Linked DNA regions of Homo sapiens: all the other regions are linked to region 3. The links come from fine-mapping of genetic effects on gene expression. A gene starts in region 3. Each other region holds a variant in brackets. All regions are shown on one strand. Distances are between the middles of the regions.

What was found. PIP is the estimated chance that this variant, and not a neighbour inherited with it, causes the effect.
Region 1: its variant is fine-mapped to the expression of ACP6 in stomach (GTEx, PIP above 0.99).
Region 2: its variant is fine-mapped to the expression of ACP6 in hypothalamus (GTEx, PIP 0.99).

Annotation. Positions count from the first base shown.
Region 1 is chr1:147,715,749-147,723,931 of GRCh38, forward strand. All of the region lies in intron 2 of LOC105371230 (a long non-coding RNA gene), which reads right to left. The region is part of intron 1 of LOC102723321 (a long non-coding RNA gene); the gene reads left to right. Among named protein-coding and RNA genes, the nearest start is that of GJA5, 41 kb to the right of the region's middle. The variant A/T (reference allele first, on the strand shown) is at 4,147.
Region 2 is chr1:147,627,655-147,635,837 of GRCh38, forward strand. It overlaps a transcript of ACP6 not described here. Among named protein-coding and RNA genes, the nearest start is that of ACP6, 39 kb to the right of the region's middle. The variant C/T (reference allele first, on the strand shown) is at 3,584.
Region 3 is chr1:147,665,622-147,673,804 of GRCh38, forward strand. ACP6 (acid phosphatase 6, lysophosphatidic) reads right to left here and starts at 4,903. Exons shown (of 10, transcript NM_016361.5): 1 at 4,209-4,903. The coding sequence starts at 4,427. RefSeq lists enhancers at 3,751-4,694, 3,906-3,965, 4,606-4,855, 5,296-5,365.

The DNA of each region.
Region 1 (8,183 bases), 50 kb after region 3:
TAAATAAGAGACAAACAGTTGTGTACTTTTGATTTTTGAGCAGCCTTTCACCGAATACAAAATTTACACATGATGAGGGTGGGGGTAGAAAAAGAGTCTAGCTCAGTAAATCTGCATTTTTACATCAGAGGAAGCAATCAGATATGCATTTGTCTCAGGTGAGCAGAGCGATGACTTAGAGTTCTGTCCTTCGTCCTACCTGTGAGGATAAGCTATCAATTTACATTGTCAGGGTAAAACTCAACAGAACCCTTTTAGGGTAAAGATCTTGAGGCTCACAAGGAATTTCGTAGTGGTCAAATCATGAAGGAGGTATGTGGCTTTTTTATCTTTGTAACTATCTTATTTAGGAATAAAATGGGAGGCAGGTTTGCCTGATGCAGTTCCCAGCTTGACTTTTCCCTTTGGCTTAGTGATCTTGGGATCCTGAGATTTATTTTTCCTTCACAAGATGTTTATTTTTAGTCTCCTTGTTCCTGGAAAGGGGTCCCAATCCAGACCCCAAGAGAGGGTTCTTGGATCTCACTCAAGAAAGAATTCGAGGCAAATCCATAGAGTAAGATGAAAGCAAGTTTATTAAGAAAGTAAAGAAATGAAGAATGGCTACTCCATAGGCAGAACAGCCCCAAGGGCTGCTGGTTGCCCATTTTTATGGTTATTTCTTGATTATATGCTAAACAAGGGATGGATTATTCATGAGTTTTCTGGGAAAGGGTTGGGCAATTCCGGTAGCTGAGGGTTCCTCCTCTTTTTAGACCATATAGGGTAACTTCTTGGTGTTGCCATGGCATCTGTAAACTGTCATGGCGCTGGTGGGAGTGTAGCAGTGGACTATCAGAAGTCACTCTTGTCACCCTTTTGATTTTGGTGGGTTTGGGCCGGCTTCTTTAATGCAGCCTGTTTTATCAGCAAGGTCTTTATGACCTGTATCTTGTGCCGACCTCCTGTCTCATCCTGTGACTTAGAATGTCTTAACCTCCTGGGAATGCATCCTAGTAGATCTCAGCCCTATTTTATCCAGGGCCTATTCAAGATGGAATTGCTCTGGTTTAAACACCTCTGACATCATCATGCTAGGTGGTTAAGCTCCTCGAGGGCAGTGATTTTGTCTATTTTATTGACTGTTCTATGTTTAGTGTCCAGCACAGTATTTGGCACATAGCAAGACTCAAATATTTGTTAAATAAATAATTGAATATAAAGCTCTGCAAAATTCTGTCTACCTTCCCTGATTATTAATCTGGAGCAGCTTCTATCTCTTAAATTGCAAAGAGCTGCAGCTCCAGTCAACTATTTTCACTGCTCTGAGCATTCAGTGACCCATATTTGTTTTCTGACTCAATATATATAGTGCATTTGCTGGAGTGAAGAACTTCCTGATTGAAATCTGATCTTGTAAGGTACCTGGATGTGCTCTGGTGAACAGTAGGCTGAGGCAGACATCCGGGCTAGAGTGACTCATAGAGTTTAGGGTGCAGGCGCTTACTCCACCTGTTATATAACCTGTTTGTGTAAGCTCATACCTGGCTTGGAGCCACTGTTGTTTGAAAAGGTATAATTGTCCTGCTGATGCTGTACACAGGGGACATGGCTTGGCTCAGCTCTTGGGCATGGCTCAACATGGCTCAGCACACTGGCACCCAGAGAAAGAGAGAGAGAGCCAAAGATGTCTGTCTTGCAGGCAGGCAGGTGGGAGCCAGGAACCAGCTTTTGCCCAGAGAAAGAGTTAAGCTGCTGACCCTGAAAGCAAGGGAGAGTCAGCCGTGCAGCTCTGCATGGAAGTGGCCGGCTCAAGCAGCTGAAACAGAGCATACAGTGTAAGAGAGCTGCTGATGAGAGAGCTACTGAATAAAGCCATATTTCACCTACACATGGCCGCCCGAAGTGTTCTTTCAGCTATCCACCCACTCCCCTCAGACCTAAGCATGGGCTGGACCCTGACCCTGGATCTAACAATTGGTGACATTGGCAGGATGAGGTGTGGTACCCAGTGGCAGTGGTGCTGCTTGGATGGGCCCTAGTGGAAATGTGAGAGGCAATGGACAGGGCCCCCATGAGTATGGGGAAGGCCCTGAAGTACCTGGAGGTGCACAACACCAAGGAGGAACATGCCTTTGCCAGCAGAGTCAGATGGGCGTTTGTGACTGTGCTGCAGGAAGTGCACGCCCAATCCCTGTGAGACACAGTGCAGGGAGGAGGAAGAACTTCTGTTGCAGGCTTGCCCAGTGATCCGTCTGAAAATAGAGCATGGACAGCTGTTGGGCCCCAAGGGTGAGCCCAGGGACCCTCCCCAGTTGTGATGGAACACATTTCCTATAGTCCCGGTGCCCCTACTGAGTTGTGGGAGTTAAGCAAGTAATGTCGGCAGTCATGTACAGACTTAGTGCAAGTCATTCAGGAGAAGGACGTTGCTGTGCAACCCAGTCCCACCCAAGTGCTCCGGTTCAAAAAATACCTGCTGCAGTCAGGCAAAAGTGTAAAGCCTTTTCTGTTTGATAAGAGAACTGACCAAAGTGCCAGGATGGGTACATTCATGGGTAACAACCCCCCGGACTGGGAAAGTGGTTAGCAACTGCATATGCTGCCCTTCGGGCTCATAAGAGTGTGGCAGGATGGGCTACAGTCATCGTCTGGATGACTTACCCAATAGTGGGATGGGTGCATTCATGGGTAACTACCCCTGCCAGACAGGAATGGCACAGACATCCACTTTAGTGAAGTGGGGTGTCTACTTGGAACAGTGGAGTACTCTGAGTACAAGTCCCTTAGCAGTAGAGGTTTTAGGGCCTGTAGTCCTAATGCAAGATGAGGCCATGGGGCCTGAGGCACCCCTAGACCCTGAGCCATCACTGTTTAAGGAAGGGTGCCCTCCCATTCCTGATAGGGCATGGTACATAGCTAGGTCTAGCCAGGGTGCTACTGCTGTCTGGACTGCTGGTGCAGTCCAGCCTAGTTCTGACACCACATGGTTTGAAATCAGGTGTAGACAGAGTAGCTAATGAGCTGAACTCAGGGCAATGTAAATGGTAATCACCAAGGAGGTGACACCTAAGGTAGTCTGCACCAATAGCTGGGCAGTTTATCAGGGCCTATGTATGTAATGGGCCTGTGTGCCCAGAAGCCTATGTTTATGTATCAGGCCTGTGTGTCAGGCCTGTGTTCCCAGGCTTATGTATCAAGTCTATGTGTGTATATTGGGCTTGCATGCCCAAAGCCTATGTGCCAGGCTTATGTGTCAAGCATATGTGTATGTATCGGGCCTGTGGGCCGAAAGCTTATGTGTCAGACGTGTGAATCAGGGGCTTATGTGCCAAACCCGTGTATTGGACCTATGTGTCTAAAATCTATGTCTCCCTCAGCTTAGGGGGTGGAGTGTAAAGTACATGGATGTGCTTTGGTCAACAATAGACTGAGGTGGACATCTGGACCAGAATGACTCAGCAAGTTTAGGGTGCAGGCGCATACTCCACTTTTTATACAACCTGTTTGTGTAAGTTCGTACTTGCCTTGGAGCCACTATTGTTTGAAAAGGTATAACTGCCCTGCTGATGCTGTGCATGGGGAACATGGATCCGCTCAGCTTCTGGACATAGCTCGACATACCTCAGCAAACTGGTGCCCAGAGAGAGAGAGAGAGCCAAAGCTGTCTGTCTTGCAAGCAGGCAGGGGACAGCCAGGAACCAGCTTGTGCCCAGAGGAAAAAAGAGTTAAGCTACTGACCCTGGAGGCAAAGAAGAGCCGGCTACACAGCTGTGCATGGGAGTGGCTGGCTCAAGCAGCTGAAACAAAGCAAACAATGTAAGAGAGCTGCTGATGAGAGAGCTACTGAATAAAGCTGTATTTCACCTACCTATGGCCCCCACAAGTGTTCTTCCAGCTATCCACCCAGTCCCCTTGCATGGGCTGGACCCTGACCCTGGACCTAACAGATCTAAAAACAAATTTCCCTCATTGGAACCACCACCACCAACACACACATAAAGTTAGAGTCATTTTTTGTTTGTGTTTTTTTGGATCATTTTATGCCCACTGCAGATACTCCAGTATATACAAAAATAATAGTGTCAGAGGCGTTTGAGCCAGAGCAACTCCATTTTGAATAGGGGCTGGGTAAAATAAGGCTGAGACCTACTGGGCTGCAGTCCC[A/T]GGAGGTTAAGGCATTCTTAGTTACACAATGAGATAGGAGGTTGGCACAAGATGTAGGTCACAAAGACCTTGCTGATAAAACAGTTTGCGGTAAAGAAGCCGGCCAAAATCCACCAAAACCAAGATGGTGATGAGCGTGACCTCTGGTCGTCCTCATTGCTCATTATATGCTAATTATAATGCATCAGCATGCTAAAAGACACTCCCACCAGCCCCGTGAGGGTTTACAAATACTGTGGCAATGTCAGGAAGTTACCCTCTATGGTCTAAAAAGGGGAGGAACCCTCAGTTCTGGGAATTGCCCACCCCTTTTCTAGAAAACTCACGAAAAATTTACTTTTTGTTTAGCATATAATCAAGAAGTAACAATAAGTATAAGCAGCTGAGTGGCCCATGCTTCTGCTCTGCCTATGGAGTATACATTTTTTATTCCTTTACTTTCTTAATAAACTTGCTATCACTTTACTCTATGGACTTGCCCTGAATTCTTTCTTGTGTGAGATCCAAGAACCCTCTCTTGGGGTCTGGATCGGGACCCATTTCTGGTAACAACAGGGTCTCACCCACAGTGTCTTCTGGCCCTGCCAGGCCCTCCAGCTAAGCAGGGAATTATACTAAGCAAGAGGAGCAAGTCAGCGAAGGAGCTCTGGGGCTAGGGCGGCTGTAAGGGCTCTAGGGGCACATGGCGGCTCTATGCTGTGGCCTAAGAGAGGCATTTTTAACATCTGGGTGGTGACCCTGCTGCCATCAGAGTTCAGGAATTGCTGAGAGGAGAAGCAGCACCTGTTCTCTGGGTCTCTGCAGTGGCAGCAGCTGAGATGGTAATAGGTGTGCTGATGCCTGAGGAAGTGGAATCCCAGCTGAGGGAGTGGTCAAGCGCTGGCAGCAGCTGCGAAGGGCAGGGGCCCAGCTGGTTAAGGAGAGAGCCCTGGCTTCTCCGCCTTCACAGTAATCCCTTCACCTGTGCTCTTGGGCCCATCCTGACTTTTCCTCACAGTCTCTTGCTTCAACCACTTCCCCTACTCATTTCAGGCTTCCTCCTATTCCATGGTCTTTCTCCCCTCAGCCTGCAAATATGCTTTGCTCTCCCCTTTTCTAAAAACCTCTTCTGTCTCCTGGGACCACTTCTCTTAGGTCTTAGCCATCCCTCAAAAAAACAAACACACAAAACCATACTCTTCTACCATTTAGTCCTGTTTCCAACCAACAGCTATAGTTGCATTTGTCTTTCCTTAGCAAACATGTTAAATGAGCTATCCATATACCTGGCCTTCCTCAGCAACTTACCCATTTATGAATTTATGCAATAGGCAATGTATTGAGGACCTACTATGAATAATAGACTGGGAATAGAGGATAGATTACGGTTTCTTCCCTCAGAGGAGTTCTCTGCCTAATAGAGGACATAAATGGGTTAAAAAATTTACAGTATAATGTGATAAGTACAACAAAGAAGGGAAGTACAGTGTTCAGAGGTATAATAACACAAAAGAGAGAGTCATCGACTAGAGAGAAGACAGGCAGAGATCGAAGATGGTTTCCTGAGGGATGTGGAGTCTGAACTAGATTTCGAAGGACAACAGGAAAATGTAGGGGAAAACACAGTTTCTTGGAAGCTGAATAAGAGATATCAGTCAACTTCATCTACTGCCACAGAGAGATGACATAAAATGAGGAAAACACACAGATAAATTAGCAGCATGGAGGTCATTATGGGACTTTGCCGATAAATCAAAATAGAGAGGATTGCAGTGGGATGAGAAGCAAACAAGGTGTGAGAAGGTAGAGGTTTTGGCAGAAGCCTAGCTGAGATGGGAGAGCATTGTAAGGCAGCAGCTAGAGAGAAGTGCAGGGTGGGAGGAGAACTGCCAAGGTTGAGAGAGAGACATACCAGTTGCCAGCTCCTTAGGGATGTCACAAGGAATCAGTGAGTTAATACACGTGGAGTGCTTACACAATGCCCAGCACACACTCCATAGGTGGTGTGGCCAGAATGCAAATTCTCATGCCTGGGTGCTAATCCCATGCTTATTTCATTGCATCAGGAAGGCCTGGGGGGAAATTTCCACATTCAGAGAGTTCTTGGGTAATGGGGAGAGATGAGAGAGATTGGGTAGTGCCATTTGAGGCCAGTCAGAGGTCTTATGGCTCATTCAGGAGACACAAGGCTCTGAGCTTCCTATGTTCTGACAGGGTCAAAGTTTCCCTCACCAATTCTCCCCACATGGCTTCTTAGCCAGACTTCTTCAAAGAGGCTGATCGCAAACCACCTTACCTCATGACAGCCCCCCAGACATCCCTGCATGCCTCCCAGCAGAATATTTCAGGTGGGCAGCTTAGCCATCAGGGGAGGGGACTGCAGCTGCTGAGGACAGCTGAGCTCCAGTCCTTGCTGTTCTATTGGCTGCCCAGTGAGTGGAGAAGGTGATGGGGGTGGGGCGATGTCCTTAGGGAGGAGGGTTAGAGGAAGCTCCCAGATGGGACACCACCACAGGAGGCTGTGATCACACTGACTGAAGGAAGTAGCAGGTCCCATTCAGTCCCTGACCTGGGGACAGTCTCAGAAGGGAACAGTCTCATGAGTCCAATTTTAAAGAATTGCTGAATTGTCTGAAATAATGGATTTGGAATTTTTTTCCACTTGGGATAGTAAATTCCACCAAGAGAGGAAATAACTTATAAATGATTAACATTGGCATAAGTTAATATTTCTGATTGCAGGACCTTGTCAAATGGAAGGCCGCGTAGGATTTGGAGAGGGGAGAAAGGGAAAAGAGAAAAAATACTCTGAGTAGGGGACCCTGCTAATGAGAGAGCAAGCCTGTTGGGTGGTAAGGATTGAAGTGGGGATGATGGGATGAAATCTATGAGGGTTCAGGGGGCTCCTAGAATCCTAGGAATATGGAGGATCTGAGGGGAAAGAGAATACATTGGTTGAGAACATACCATGTGCCAGGTACTCAGCTAAGCAGAGTAGATACAATGAGTAAATCTAAGTTTCTGACCTTTCAGAATCCACAGTCTGAGACTGAGGGGAAAAAGGTACATTTCAGTAGAAGGTGTGAACCACTATGGTGGTTACAAGCATGGCACTGAACCAGCCTGCTTGGATCTGAATCCCAGTTCTGCCACTTATTAGTTGTATGGCTTTGGGCGAGAGTCTTAACCTCTCTGTTTCCATTTCTCCATCTATAAAATAGGGATAATAGTAGTAGCTACTCATAGGGTTGTTGTGAGGAAAGAATGAGTTAATACACATACAAAGTGCCTCAACCAGTACCTGGAATAAAATAAACACTATTGTAGGGTCCTCCAACTTCCCCCACTTTTTCTCTGGTCCTGCCGGGAAACGTAGAACACTTGCACCACTCTCCCAGCCAGATATATGTTTTCTCCTGCAGGCTTGAACCCAAGTGGGGCCCTTGAACATTTCCAGGCACCGATAAAGGTGTTTGCATTTTTGCCCAAAACCCTGAAAGAGACTAGCCCCAGCCCCGAGTCAAACTCCTTAAACCCTCTTATAAGCTCCATACCCTGACTTTCTCATTGCAGACATACCTAGGTAGGACATCCCTTGTCTCATTGTCCTTCGGGAGGATGCTCTCCAGCCCCCCTCTGTAATACAGTTCACCTGATACAGTAAATGCTTTTAACTAATCACCTTGACATTTTAGTACTTCTTTCTTTGGAATCCCAACTGGCCCCATCCTGGAATCATTTGGGGCAGTCCCTTGCAGGAACTCCTCTGCCCCTGCTTTTGGGTGACTCCAGCTGTGGGTTCAGCCACAGAGGCTGACATCAGGTTTTGTCACAGAGGCAGGCATCAGGTACTATGGGAGAGGTGACCAGAGAAATCTCAAGAGGCAAGTTTGTCCCCTACACAACCGGGAATTTTTCTGTGCCTTTGCCTTTGTTTCCCTTTTTCTTTCCTAGGTCTCTACCGAATCACTTGCTTCCTCACCCCGCCCTGCAGGGCCAGTGATGTGCCATCACAAGCCAGTGCAGTAAGTGCCTGACACTCCCAATGCCCCTTTGAT
Region 2 (8,183 bases), 38 kb before region 3:
GATGTGTGGCACTCCTCTCGCAGCCCCCTGCTGGAGAACTTGGGGCAGTGCAGATCAACTTCCCCACCTGAGTTTTTAAAATACCCCATCATACAACTTCATTCACTTTATCAGCACATGCCATTTCATCACGATAATGTCTGACAAGCCAAATTTAGGGTCTAAATACAACAATTTATCATTTACTAAGATTGTTATAAAATAAAATTACCTTTAGAGAGACTGGATGCTAGTGCATGGAGAACTGATGCAAGATTTTTTAAAAATCAGTGGAAGAGTGATGAAAGATGTTTCATATTAACATATTCCTGTGAAAGCCCAGCCAATCTTCTCTCTTTCCTCTCCTGAAGTTTGGGACTGAATGGAGAAAATGCAGTAGTGACTTGTTCACTTCAGGGGAAAGTGGTGGAGTGTGTGTGGCTCATAGCATTTGTTAAGGACTAACTAGAAGTATGTAGCATTTTCCCTGAAACAATGTAAAATAAAATAATTTACTTTAGAAACGATTCTGCACTTATACATGAAAACAGACATAATTATAGGGGTCTTATGAAGGAGGCGGCATGAGAAAATAAATTGAAAACAATTTTACATATTTAAAGCTACTCCTTAAAAAATGGATCCAACATTTCTCCCAGCCTCCCTGCGCTCTATACTTCTTGATATTATCATCACAACGCAACTGTGGTCATCTGTGCCACCTGTGCAGTTGGACAGGACTCCGGCTTGGTTTAATGCTCCGCTGTCACTGTTTGGAGTTCTTAATTATTGAATAGGGGCTCCACATTTCCATTTCGCCCTGGGTCCCACAGATTGCTTAGCCAGGCTGTTGTAAACAGAAATCACAACAGCTCCACAGAGGTGCTGGGACCTCAGTCTCCATATTTATTCTTTCTCCTTAACTAGTGGCCAGGAGCACCTCAGGCAGGGTACTTGCTGTGTTCCGCTTAAACTGTCTACACTTCAGTCATTTCCTTTTCCTTTTCTGAGTAATTTCAGGGTGCTGAAAGGAGAGGGAAGTTGCATTTTAACCCGAGGACTCATTATTTAGCAAATATTTATAGAGCACCTACTGTGTATCAAGAACTGTGCAAAGGCTGGGATGTGGAAACAGGTGTGTAAACCAGTTATTGCGATGTAATATGATGATTGCTACAGTGAAGGTGTGGACAGGGCGCAATGGGCCAGAAAGGAAAATTCAATGAATCCTCAAAGGAAAGGTGATTTTTTGAACTGACTCTTAAAGGAGAGAGCATTCCTGGAGGATGGTGGTGAGCACTGAAGCAGAGGAAATGGGAACAGCAAGGGCTTGCTGATGGGATGGCCTCTTTAAGGGAGGAAGAAGTAAAGAAGTAAGAAATAAGCCTAGGCCGGGCGCGGTGGCTCACGCCTGTAATCCCAGCACTTTGGGAGGCCGAGGTGGGCGGATCATGAGGTCAGGAGATCGAGACCATCCTGGCTAACATAGTGAAACCCCATCTCTACTAAAAATACAAAAAATTAGCCAGGCGTAGTGGCGGGCGCCTGTAGTCCCAGCTACTCGGGAGGCTGAGGCAGGAGAATGGCGTGAACCTGGGAGGCGGAGCTTGCAGTGAGCCGAGATCGCGCCACTGCACTCCAGCCTGGGCGACAGAGCGAGACTCCGTCTCAAAAAAAAAGAAAAGAAATAAGCCTAGAGAGAGAGTGGATCACAGAGAGCCCAGTGTGGCCCACTAAAGAGTTTGAACTTCAAAGTTTTAAGCAAAGGATCAGGTGATCAGATTGTGGAAGATAGCCTGGGGGCGGGGTGAGAGAACCACAGGAAGATCACTTGCAAAAATTTGCTTATTCTACAAAATCCTCAGACTCATCTCTTTTGCTTGAAATAACATTAAATTGTATCATATTTCCCATGCTGTTTAGGCAACTTGAGCCTCACTGCCACTTTCTTTTCTCTAACTCAGACCTGTAATTTTTTTCAAAGTCACAAACCCTTACATTTAAGAAAAGTCATGGAATCCTAATTTGGTGGTAAGATTTTAATAACACATTTAAAGCAATAAGTATATAAAGCACAAAACCAGTGGGTGGCCAAACATTTCCTATTGGAGGGAGCTAAATCATAAAAATAATGTTAAAAGGAAGGTATGCTATAAGGATTGTAATAAAAGTTGTCTCTATTTAACATGGCTTCTTATTTGGGTTACTGTTAAACAGACACGAATCTATTTTCTGCCTATAGGTGACCCCACTTCAGCTGTTAACTTTCTGTCTCAGTGCTTAATTGTGCTTGGTAATCAATACTGTCAGAGGAAGACGGTGAGTGTATGTATGACCATAGAAAGAGAAAATAAACAGAAGAACCAGAAATTATTTCCTCACACATAGTTAAAGCATGGGAAAATTCAGTTATTTCACCAAACACGAAAGAAACCAGATTTCTCTTGCAAAATACCTGCTTAGTGTCCACGAACAATTATGTGGGTACCCTGGGGTTCCAAAGAACAGGTTAAAGAGACCCAGCCCTAGGAAACTGCATGTCTTCACCGGGGCCAGCTGGGCGTGTTGCTGTGTGGCTCTGGGCGGCTGGGTTTCTCATACCTCAGCACCTGCACCTAGACCAGCAACTCCCTCTCATGAGGGGCTGACCCGCAGCTCTGTGCTAGCCACACTCTTCCATTCTCCAGAGGCTGGAGCCAGGGTCAAGGGCAGAAACAGCTTACAAATCTCAGTTATATCCAGTGTCCAATTAATTAGTGTTGAGGGTGAATTTAGTTTTCAATAATCTTTTTGTTTTCTACAGCCGAAGTTCTCTTTATTAAAGACCCCAGGAGCTCATGTTTGTTTCTCATCTTTACCAAGCTTCCAGGAGCTTTCATTTTCCTCACTTCCCACATAGAAGCTCAACAGCTACCCCATGAGCTGTTTTCCCTGGAGACTCCTGCCCATCCCCATGAATCAATCTGTGATCTAAGGCCACGCTTTTGGCGGTGCTTTACGGGCTCTGGAGTACTGGCTTCTGGCTGCTCGGTTCTCAGCGTCAAATGAAGACAAGGGCTGCGTCTGGCACCTTGCTAGAAACTGAGTCATTGTTATTGGGTTCAGTCAAAATGTATTTGATTACAGGGGATGGTGGATTACTGTGATTTATTTTGTTCTCCAAACTGCAGAAGATCTCCTGGGCTTTGGTAAAATTCTCTAGGATAGCTGTGAGTAGTCGAGCTATTGAAAACTTTTATACACACATATACACATACAGATTTACTTATACACATGTATATGTACCTTAATATATGAAAGTATGTAAATAATTAAATGCCAGTTTTGAAATGTCAACACTGCAATGAAGAGTAGTTTGCTTTTTCCTTGTCAATGAGGCTGGAAAAGCCCTAGAATTTTCTTCATTCCTGTTATGCTTGCTACCTGCAAGTCCTTTAAAATAAAATCATCATTATTTAAAAGTGTGATAATACCAATGAGGAAATACAAGGATCACTTCCATACAAAGGAAGAACCAGGCCCAGGAGAGAAATTATCTGACAGGCACCTCAAACTTAACATGTCTTAAACTTAACCTCTGAATTTCTCTCACATCTTATCTCCA[C/T]ACCCCACTTCCCCATCACAGTAAATGACATTATATCCATCCCCTAGTTTTCATATCAGACACCTGGGACTCATTCCTAATTCTTTACTCCTCATGTAAAACCATCAGCAAATCCTTTCATGCCAATTTCCAAAACATATCTTAAATCCATGCACTTTTCTTCATCACTCTAGATGAAGTTACTATCTTTCACCTCATTTATTACGTGTTTGTTTGTTTTTTAACCAGTATTTTCACTCTAGCTCTTCAGTCTATTCTCCACAATATAAACAAAGTAACCTTAAAAAGTATGAATTGGCTGGACACTGTGGCTCACGCCTGTAATCCCTGCACTTTGGGAGGCCGAGGTGGGTGGGTCACAAGGTCAAGAGATCGAGACCATCCTGGCCAACATGGTGAAACCCCGTCTCTACTAAAAATACAAAAATTAGCGGGGCTTGGTGGCACACACCGGCAGTCCCAGCTACTCAGGAGGCTAAGGCAGGAGAATCGCTTGAACCCAGGAGGCGGAGGCTGCAGTGAGCTGAGATCGTGCCACTGCACTCCAGCCTGGGCGACAGAGTGAGACTCTGTCTTAAAACAACAACAACAACAACAAAAAAAACAGTATGAATCACACCACTTTCTTCCTTAAGACCCTTTCATGGCTTCCTAATGTAATTAGTATGAAACCCAAGATTTTTGGCAGGACTGCCAGGCCCCAGCGCCTCTCCAGTTTTGCTTCATGCCCTTCCCCCACCCACTGTGCTCCAGCCGAACCATGCTAATTTCAGTATCTCCAGCGTGCCAAGGCCTTCTTGCCACAGGACCTTACCCACACCAGTTCTTTGGCCTGGCATACTTGACTCCAGGCTTTCCCAATGGCTGGCTTCTCCATGCCCCTCAGGTCTCAGCTTATTTGTCATCTCCTCAGAGAGGTCTTCTCTGAGTACCCTGTCAAATACCTACCTATGCCCAACACACACACACACACACACACACACACACCATCATTTTGTATCACGACTCTGTTTGTATCCTTCATAGCAATTATGTATTTTATCTTGCCCACTGTGTGAAGTCAGGAGCCAAATTTTTCTTGCTCATCACTTGTTCACCAGCATCTGGCATAGTGTCTGCACTCTATCAAAGATCAGTAAATAGCTGTTAAATAAATGAGAGGGAAGAAGGATCCATATGAGCTTGGGTGGCCAGGAAAGATTTCATGCTGGTTGTGGTACATGAGGTGGACCCTATAATGAGGCTGGGGGTGGAGGACACACAGAGAACAACACGAATGAGGAAATGGCAGTGGGAATGGACGGATAAAGAAAAGCAGGCCAAATGACAGCGAAGGGAACAGCTTAAACAAAATTGATCATGTGCACAATAGAATGTGAAATTGAAAAGGGAGGGAAGAATGAATAGCCCCAAAAGCCAAGAAAAGGAATTTCATCTTGATATGGGAAACAATTGGGACCCACTCTTTGGTCTTAATCAGAGGACTTACATGCTAAGTGTTTTATCAAGTGAGTCTGGCAGGGGCAAGCAGGATGGATTGAAGCAAGGACAGGCTGGAAGAGCTGACTGGAAGCACGCACCTATTCTGGGGTTGAGGAGGTGAGGCTCCTGGCGATTCAGTGGAGAGTAAAGGGTGAAGCAAAGACAGCTGTGAAGGAAGAACCCCCAAGACTTCATTGGATAATGGGGACAATCACTGGAGAAGAGGTAGGAATCAAACACGATGTGGTGATTTTGAGACTGAGAAGCTGAAAGAAAGGTAGAATCGTGGTGTTGGAAGAGGCCATCCTACTGCCCTAAGTATCCCTGACAGGTGGCCAGCACCTCCACTTGAGCCGTCCGATAATGGGAGCCCATTCTATTGAACATCATTAGCTCTAATATTTAGAAAATTCTGCCGCCTAATGAATCAGGCTTCTTTTAGTTTTTTGCCCATTCATCCCAATTCTGACTGTAGGAGTAAATACAGAATAAGAGCAGTCCTTCTTTCTCATCCCAGCCCTTCAGATAGTTGAAAACAGTTATTACTTCCCTCCTAATTTTCTTTTTCCCAAGCTAAATGCCCTGGTCCATCAATTAAGACCAATGAGATCAGGTTTTGAGTTCCCTAACTGCCCTCATAGTTTTATCTTGTTTTATCACAGTTTACACATACCTTGAAAGAAGAAATAAAGTGTTTGGTGCCCCAGTACTATCTGATCAGCAGAGAGCACAGTGAGACTATTACTTTCTTTTATCTGAGCACAATTTCACTAATAGGCAAAAGTTTCTTTTTTTTTTTTTAACTGCTATGGAGTTATATTGGAATTTTAGGAAATGAAAACCCCAAGATCTTTTTCATGTAAAAAAAGTCATCACTCCTAATCCTGTGTATTATTTTGCTTATTTTTATCCTATATTCAGAATTCTAGTTATTCCTATTTAATTTCAATATTCATTCTGATCTGTTGTTCCACAGTCTGAAAGTCCTTAGAAACTTATTCTAACAATCTTTATATTGGTTCTAACTTTTCTATCAAAAGCAAAGCTGGTAATATTTTCATCAAAGTGATACAAGAACCCAGGATAAAAACCTGGAGCTCATAACTGAGGTGCTTTTTTCACCCATTTAAAAAAATTGTGGTAAAAAAATACAGCAAAAAATTGACCATTTTAACCATTTTTAAGTATACATTAATGTGTTATGGCTTTAAGTACATTCACATTGTTGTGCAATCATAATCGCCATCCATCTCCACAACTTTTTCATCATGTAAAATTCTAACTTTGTACCCATTAAACAATAACCCCATTTCTCCCTCTGAAGTTTCTGAGGAATTGCCATACTGTTGTCCACAAGTGCTGCACCATTTTGCATTCCCACTAAGAATGTACAAGGGTTCCAATTTCTCTAGATTCTTATCAACATTTATTATTTTTGTTTGTTTTCTCATTGTGGTTTTGGTTTGCATTTCTCTGATGAGTGACGTTGAGCATCTTTTCATGTGCTTACTGGCCATTTGTGTATCCTCCATGGAGAAATGTGTATTCAAGTCCTTGGCCCGTTTTTTGATGAGGATTTTTGGTGGTGGTTGTGTTGTAGGAGTTCTTTAAATCTTCTGGATATTAATTCCTCATCAGATAAATGATTTTCAAATATTTTCTCCCATTCCATGGGGTGCCTTTTCACTCTGTTGATTGTGTCCTTTGATGCCTAAAAGTTTTTTTTTTAATTTTGATAAAATCCAACTTATCTATATTTTCTTTCCTTGCCTGGGCTTTTGGTATCATATCCAAGAAATCACTGTGAAATATAATGTCATAAAGCTTTTCCCCTGTGTTGTCTTCTAAGATTTTATAGTTAGAGCTAATCTTTAGAGTGACATCAATTCAGAAATTTTTAAATGTTTTAAATATACTTGTGTAATCACTTATAATTCTACCTCTTATCATCCAGCTCACATTCTCCATCTACCTATTGAGTAATTGGCTCTTTGATTGATTCATCAGTCTCTACAAGGCTAGGAACTGTGGATGCAGCAGTGAACTGGTCAGGAGTGGTCCCACCCTGAGCTCATCAAACCCAGAGTCTATTGAAGAAGTCAAACACTGAATAAGCAATTATAAGCACAGTCATGGCATGAAAGAAAAGGAAGCTGCCCACATTGAAGACAGGGAAGTGCAACCTAAAATATTTTATCAAATTTCCTGAGAATCTTCTATCTACTGGTCTGTTAACCCAAAGGAGAAAGGAAATAGTTCAGCCAAGTACTAATAATGATTGCTGCTTTCTTTCCTAAGTGCTCCACAGACTTTTCCTTTGTTTAAAAGTCCACTCTAGACCAAGGAGCTCTCCAGTCCTTAAATTCTGGAGTCTATCATTTTATGGGTTTTAAAAACTAGGGCCACATTTGCCTTTGTATTTTGGTTCTTTGAGACTAGAAATCTGAGAGTATCTTCATTTCTCATAGATTACTGTCTGAAGTGACATCTATAACTTAACTTTTTATCTACTCCAGGGTATTACCTACCAAATAGGAAGATCCGAACTCATTGACATCAACCAGGTGCTGTCCTCACTGCTCTAAGATTTCAATCCCTCCCAGCAATCTTGGGCCATTTGTGGCTTAAAGGTAGATTCTGTTGTTAGGAAAGACTTACTAGGAAAGAGAGGGATTTGGATTTAACTGCTTTCATTTTCTCTCTCTCCTCTATTAAATCTTCTCCCCCAGACGCTGAGCCTATCTTTTACTTCTTCATTACTTTTTTTCTCAGAATACAGCTTAAGAGCCCTTAGCTTCCTCTTCCTGTCCCAATCTTGCCCAAGCTTCTAGTATTATCATGAGTAAAAATTAGGGAAGTTGGGGAGAAGTCCTTGTTGGGGTTGAGGGAGTGTTGAGTATGAAATGATGAAGTGGTGTCTATGTGTGGACAGTTGGAAATAAGAGACAGGGATGAATGAGCAGTTTGGACTAGATATGGAGATGTGAATTCCTCCACATGGAGATGAATATAGATTATTTCTCTATGGGAGTGAGAGAATAGAGAGCCAAGTGGAGGGCCAAGAACTCAGTCATGAGGGATTGGCACAGTCCGCAGGCAGGAAGAAGTTCCAGCAAAA
Region 3 (8,183 bases):
TTTAAAGGCAAGACTGAATTATCCATCCTTGTAGTTCCAGTGTCCACCACAGGGCCTGACACAAAGCTCCACAGGGCCATTCAGCCTCACTAAGAAATCTGTTAGGCACATTCACCAAGAGAGGACCCTTGGCGTCTCCTAGGAGTCTGGAGTCCAGGTCACGTCAAGTCTAAAGTACAGTTTTCAGATTTTCAAGAATGGATGATACATCAGTTTCATATAATAGTGTCCACCCCACATACACACTCTCATTCTCATTCCTGCTCTTAAGCTTCCCAGTTAGTGGCAAAGACTAACTTGATAATTTTACTTATTTTGTGTATACCCCTCTTCAAGGGGTAATAAAGTAGATATAGCAAAAATTAAAATATAGTAAGACAACCAATTCAAAGTAGGCAAGAAAGACAAAAGCAAACAAATGTAGGGACAAAGAAATGGATGCAGTAACACGGTTACTAAAATATGTACACCATGAAGATCTGTTTACTTACTATAGGTGGGCCACAGACTTGGCACCCAGCTTCCTGACTTTTACATAAAGAAACAAACTTGATCAGCTAGACTAGTTTAAAGAAAAAAGCAAGCCAATTGTTCAGGAGAAGCACACCATTCCTAATGCTAACAGACAAATTCCTCCCAAGGGTCCTCATAAAGAGGATAGAGTAATATAATGAACATCTTTTCAGCAGTCACAGCAATGAGTTCTGTGGGATTGTTTCTCCTAGTTCTCTCAACACAGAAAGATAACCTCTTACCAAAGCACATTTCAGCGAAGGCAATTCTGTACTGGGATTGATATACTACATTCCAGGTAAAAGAACAAATCTACATAAAAGTAAACAAAAACCTCCCAGGTGTAGATTTTAAAATAAAGCAATCATATTAAACCTTGTCTGTATACTGGTATTACCAGGACATTTTTTAAAAGTTACTGATGCCTGAGTCCCAACCTGGGATAACCGCATTTGGATTATCCCCCAAAAAAGTGGGGCCTCCACTTTTTTAATGCTCTTCAGTCCAGATAATTCTCAAGCTTCACCAGAGAGTCTTTTACATTATCTGGATACCCCGGACCAATTAAATTAGAATCCTTCGGAGGGAGACCCTGGCATGTGTATTTTTTAAAGCTTTCCAGTTGACTCCAATGTTCACCACGGTTAAGAACCATCGATCCTGAAGAATGGGTGGACCTCATGTAATGCTTCTTGAATACCGCTTCTTTTAGCTGAGTTTTGGAAAGGTACTAAGCAATAAAAGATTCTTACATTATGCTTCCCAGCTCATCTATATTGTCAAATAAATAGGGACCCAAATGTCTTAATCAACAGTGAAGCTGGGGTAGGTTGGACTTTATTTTATAAAAACTGAGGAATCTCCCTGGGTGGAGGCCATCTTGACACCCAGGGGAGTTGAGGGAAGCCTGGAAGCAGTGCCAAATCTTTTCTTTTGATAGTGCATTTGGATCTGCTCTAATGATCAGGAAAAAAAATGGCCAATCAAGTTCTATATTTTTATTTCCAAAGCACAATCTTTTAGCAAAACAGGTTAAACCAACAGCCATTCAAGCCATAAGAAAACAACCCAATAAAACACTAGTTTTTTGTTTTTGTTTTTGAGATGGAGTCTTGCTCTATCACCCAGGGTAGAGTGCAGTGACCCAATCTTGGCTCACTGCAACCTCCGCCTCCCGGGTTCAAGCAATTCTCCTGCCTCAGCCTCCCGAGTAGCTGGGATTACAGGCGCCCACCACCACACCGGGCTAATTTTTGTATTTTTAGTAGAGATGGGGTTTCACCATTTTGGCCGGGCTGATCTCGAACTCCTGACCTCTTGATCCACCTGCCTCAGCCTCCCAAAGTGCTGGGATTACAGGCATGAGCCACCACACCCAGCCAAAACATCTAGTTTTAAATCATGCTACTTTCTGAGAATTTGTGAGATGGCTGAATGAAGTGACTTGTCACATATATTAATCTATAAACCAGTCAGAAATCAGGAAACATGTACCAAAGACAAAAAATTTTTGCCAGGCAGTCCCTTCTGACTATAATTAATAGCAGAACCAAGAAGATTAAAAAATCCCAATAACGGCCGGGTGCTGGCTCACGCCTGTAATCCCAGCACTTTGGGAGACTTGAAGCAGGCGGATCATGAGATCAAGATATCGAGACCATCCTGGCCAACATGATGAAACCTCGTCTCTAGTAAAAATACAAAAATTAGTCGGGCCTGGTGGTGTGCACCTATAGTCTCAGCTACTCGGGAGGCTGAGGCAAGAGAATTGCTTAAACCCGAGAGGCGGAGGTTGCGGTGAGCCGAGATCGCGTCACTGCACTCCAGCCTTGCAACAGAACAAGATTCTGTCTCAAAAAAAAAAATCCCAATAACAACCTCTATCAAATTGGATCTTGAAATGAACACTGGACAGAGACTATCCAGAAACAAGTTTTAAGAGGCTAATATTTGCTCATAGCCTAAATTGAAAGAGAGTTGGTTCACCCCTGATTTTCATGCACACAACTTTATACTAGAGAGCCGAAGACGTTTAAAGCATCTGTCTAAAGTCTGGAGAATATGAGCAGAAAGGAGAGGTAATATGCCTTCTCTAATTGCAAAGTCAGGCCATGGATTCAGATGCTATTTTGTGGCTACACAGATTGAAGATGAATGAAGCTGGTATCCTAAGCTACAACGGACCTTTCAACCATAAAGGCAGAAGATATCCATCACACACCCACTCTCCCTTAGGGATAAAGCCCTAAAAGAATCTAAATCTTTTCCTAGTGCCTTCAGGATATATATATATATATATATGGTACATACTAGGTCTAGGCCTACACATTCAAAGTTTTACTCTCCATTACCACTGATAATTTTTTGTCTTCTACGTGAATATAATATATATTCCTACATGTGATTCCCCAGTCCTTCTGTACCAAGAATAAATAGAGAAGAATTGGGGGAAGGGGAGCATCAGAGATGGGCTGTATACAAAATCATAAGGAAAATTTAGTGATCTAATATAAAAAGGCAAAGTAAGAGACTGAAAAAAAAATCAAAGAATCAAAATGAAAGAAGAAATCCCGGTTCCAGAGAGCAAGTGGTAAAGCCAGAGTAAGGCTAACTAGAAACCTGGTAATAGAATTAAGTGCCTTCCAAATGTATTTATTTATGTGGAAAATGCTTTAGAAGTTTAATTTCATGTGCGGCCAACCTTGAAAAATGGGTTTCCAGTTGTACAATGTAAAGACACAATCCTGAAGGTTTCTAGAAAGCAACTGTTATTATGAAGAGTATACCTAACATCAATTTTGGACAATCTTTTCGACCTCCTCCAACATCAACCTGGAAGACCAACGATACAAAAGCACTCCACAGGTGTAATACCTGGGAGTTTGGGGATTTCAGGTTGCCTGTTCCTCTTCACTAGGCCTTTCTGCTATAAAAAGTCACATCCAGGAAAGATAATCATTTTTTTTTAAACTATTTGTGCTTTAGTCATAATTATCCTGACAAAACCAGACAGATTTTTAAAACATTACTGCCACAGACTAGCCCATTTTAAATTTGTTCCGACCTCAGATCCCTCCCACTATAGGTTTAGTAACCTTAAATAGAAAAGGAGAACCCTAGAATACAACACTTGTTACAAAAAAAAACTTCAGGAGATCTCAAATGGCCTCCAGCAAACCCTGAGAAAAAGCAGTTATAAAGTTTGTTTCCAAAGGCAACGACCTCTTATCCACTGTAATCTCAGTTAAGAGTGGTTCCTATCACTAAAGTCCCTTCAGCCCTTCAGCTCTGACAAACCACCTTCAAAATGGTCACACAGAAGTGCACTGCACCCTTGTATTCAAGTTCACCTAGACCCTTAATAGAAATGCTGACCTGGGGCACTACTCCACACCTGCTGAATCAGAATCTGCAACGTAGCAGGATCCCCAGGCGACTCCCATGCGTCTTAAGCAGCGCTTACTGATGGCTGCGCCATCAGGGCAAAACTGGAAGTTCCGGGGCTGTCCTAACCCCAGCAGGTCCTTTGCTCAAGAGCCTGGGGAGTCACTGGCTACTGCTGTTTTCCCTTCTTCTGGACCCAACCCGAGCCCCGCTCCGCGCGAGTAAAGCTCTGAAGATGTGTGTCAGGGCGAGACTCCTGGCCTGGCACACGGTCCTCGCCCCACCAGCCCCAGCCCGGGCCGACCTCTCACCTGCTCCTCCAGCGGGAGCGGCTTGAGAGGACTCCGAGCCCCGTGTCGAAACACGACCTGCACCATTTTCAACTTCAGCAGGCTGCGGTCGACCGGACACTGGCCATCGGCCTCCTGCAGCTCGGCCAGGGCCACCCGCCGCTGGTGCAGGCAGTACGCCAGCGAGGTCAGGACGCCCACTGGGGTCCACAAGCGCATGCTGAACACACCAGTGATCATGGTGGTAGGCCCTCGCTGCCCTCCGGGTTGAGGCTGCAGGAGGCAAACACAAGTCTTCTGCGGGCGCCGGGGCTCAGCGGGCGCCCCCAAGTCCGCGGGAACCTGCGGATGCGTACATCCAGCCCTTCAGCAAGCAGGGACCGCTGTGCCTCCCGGCCCTGAGGGAGACCCCGAGTGGGAACGGGGGAGAGAACAAGAGGTGGCAGCAGCGAAGAGTCCCTGGGAGTTTTAACCCGGGTCGGGGTTGGTCGCTCCTGCTGCACACCGGGCCGGGGGAGATCGGATCCTTATCTTTTGCCCGACGAGGAACATTAAACTTGTATTTCAAGTTTGGCCTCCAGCACTCTTGAAGGAACAGGAGCCGGCCCTGAGTTCCCTGGCGGCAGCGGCTCCACCAGCAAGGACTACTCGATTCCACTTTTCTATAAGCAAGCTCCTACCCACCTCCTCACCTACTCAGGGACCCGTCCCAAGTGGACCCGCGCACAGGAGCACGGGAAAACGAGTCCTGTGGTGACACCTCGCCTGGAGACTCAGAGCTGCGGAAACTACAACTCCCACAAGGCTGCGCGTACCGCGGCTCCCAAGAAGTGGCTTGTACCCGCCCCCCTCGCCTGCGGGCCTCGCCCCTCCGGCCCAGCCAGCCGTTTTCCAGGCGTGGATGGCCCACGGACGTGCCTGGTCCGGCAGTGGAGTGGTAGTGAATCTGTCGGGCCATGGAGTTTGCCAGGCAGGAGGATCGCGAGCGCAGGAGTAGAACTGGGTGGTGGAGGGGAGTAGTTTGAGTCTAGTTTTGAATGTAGAAGACTTCCTTCCAGTCCTGGAAGCCTGGTTGCTGCAGCGAGGAGCTGAGACACCTGCCGAGTGATTGCCATTTGCGAAACACAGCACTAGGTGCTTTATATTTAGTCATTTACTACTCCCTTCTCTGTTTTTAAAAAAATTCTCAAGCTTAAGTCATTGTAATCATGTAGAACTTTCAGGTCACTGATGTGTTTACTTCCATCCAGAATACTTCTTGTGGAAAAAGCCAGGCCTTGCCTGTGGGTGTCCCAGTGATTAAGAACCTAAGAGGCGCCATGGCTCACGCCTGTAATCCCAGCACTTTGGGAGGCCGAGGCGGGTAGATCATGAGGTCAGGAGATCGAGACCATCCTGGCTAACACGGTGAAACCACGTCTCTACTAAAAATACAAAAAAAAAAAAAAAAAAAAATTAGCCAGGCGTGGTGGCGGGCACCTGTAGTCCCAGCTACTCAGGAGGCTGAGGCAGGAGAATGGCGTGAACCCGGGAGGCGGAGCTTGCAGTGAGCCGAGATCGCGCCACACGACTCCAGCTTGGGCAACAGCGCAAGACTCCGTCTACAAAAAAAAAACAAAAAAAAACCTAAGAACACAGAACAATGCCAGCCTTACCACCTGCTAGTCTGGTTTCTGTTGATATACAGGTATCCCAAGCCTGTGTTTCCAGATCTTTGCAACAGGACACAATCTGGGACCCACTATGTGTCTATCTCCAAAGATCAAACTGGGCCAGATGTAAAGACAACATACTTACAGAGCATGGCTCCTGGCCTGAGAACAAATTCTGTTCACCAAGCTGGAAGGTTCTGAGTGCTCCCCTCCCTGATGCAGGGAGGAGGGTCATTTTGGAACACTACATATTGTCACAATTTTCTCCCTAGCCCAGCCAAGGGACTCACTTTTCAGAGTCTTATTGTGTGTGCTGATGTGATTAAAAATCGAATACTGTTTGCTATGGACTCAGTTGTGTCCCCCGCCAAATTCGTACCCACTAAGTGACTGCATTTGGACATAGGACTTTTAGAAGGTGATTCTGTCAGAGGCATTTGAACCATAGTGACTCCATCTTGAATAGCGGCTGGGTAAAATGAGGCTGAGACCTACTGGGCTGCATTCCCAGGAGGTTAGGCATTCTCAGTCACAGGATGAGGGGGGAGGTCAGCAGGACTGGTATCACAAGAAACCAGTCAAAAAGACCCTGCTGATAAAACAGGAAGTGGTAAAGAAGCTGGCCAACACCAACCAAATGCAAGATGTTGATGGAAGTGACCTATGGTCAAACTCACTGCTCATTTTACGTTAATTATAATGCATTAGCATGCTAAAAGACACTCCCATCAGCACTATGACAATTTACGAATGTCGGGGCCAGCAGTTACCCTATATGGCCTAAAGTGGGGAGGAACCCTCAGTTCCAGGAAATCCCACTCCTTTCCCAGAAAATTCATGAATAATCCACCCCTTGTTTGGCATATAATTAAGAAATAACCATAAGTATTTTCAGTTGAGCAGCCCATGCCCCTGCTCTGTCTATGGAGTAGCCATTCTTTTGTTTCTCTTTTTCTCTAATAAACTTGCTTTCACTTTATGGACTCGCCCCAAATTCTTTCTTGCCCGAGGTCCAAGAACTCTCTCTTGGAGTCTGGATCAGGACCCCTTTCCAGTAGCAATTTTGGTTAAGTGAAGATATAAATGTGAGGTCCTAATCCAGTAGGATTGATGGCTTTATAAGAAGAGAAAGAAGGATCTCTCTCTCCACACAGGAGATCTGATGGTTTTATAAGTTTTTGGAAATTCCTCCTTCTTTCTCCTCTCTGGTCTGCCAACTTGTGAAAAAGGTGCCTGCTTCCCCTTCTGCCATGATTATAAGTTTCCTGAGGCCTCCCCCTGTCCTCAGCCATGCAGAACTGTGAGTAAATTTACTCCTTTGTTTATAAATTGTAGTATCTTTATAGCAGTGTGAAAACGGACTAATACAGCAATGGTCCTGTCAGGGCTCATGTGTCCTGTTGGAGGGGGAGTGTGGGGAAGTGTGGGGAACAACTTAGCAGCAGATCTCCAAAAGAAACCAGAGTGAGGGTGGAAAATAGCTGATTTCATGTGGTTGTTAAAAGCACTGTTTGTCAACACATGTGAGACAAACCATGGGGAGTCCAGATGTATTTTGTGTGTGATAGTAGTGGCAGTGAGCTGCAATTTAAAAGAGGCTGGGCCGGGCGCGGTGGCTCACGCCTGTAATCCCAGCACTTTGGGAGGCTAAAGCAGGCAGATCACCTGAGGTCAGGAGTTTGAAACCATCCTGGGCAACATGGTGAAACGCTGTCTCTACCAAAAATACAAAAATTAGCCGGGTGTGGTGGCACACATCTGTAATCCCAGCTACTCGAGAGGCTGAGGCAGGAGAATCGCTTGAACCTGGGGGCAGAGGTTGTAGTGAGCCGAGATTGCACCACTGCCCTCCAGCCTGGGCGGCAAAGTGAGATTCCATCTCAAAAAAAAAAAAAAAAAAAAAAAGAGAGAGAGAGAGAGAGAGAGAAAGAGAGAGACTGGAAGTCCTGACCCAGGGTAGGACCGTGTGGGTGGGGGTGTTAGGGTGGTTGCAGGAAGCAGGGGAACACTGAGTAGCTGTTATTTTGACCCTGGTTTTAAACTACCAGGCAGGGATGGCTCGGGAAATAAGCCCTTTCCCAGCCAAATTGTCTTCAGAGGATTGCATTTAATATTATGTAAAAACTCAGTTTTAATAATGAGATTAGATAAGAAACAACCACATTCACATTTTTTTCCCCAGTGGTGAGCACAGTGCCTGGCTTGTAGTAAGTACTCCATAAATACTTGCCAAATGAAATTATAGGATATATCATAGGAATGTTGTTGAGCCATTGCTCATTACATCATTTATTGCTTCCTTTATAAATCTCCTCCTGAGAAATTTGGTTTAGAGTGTTAGAAT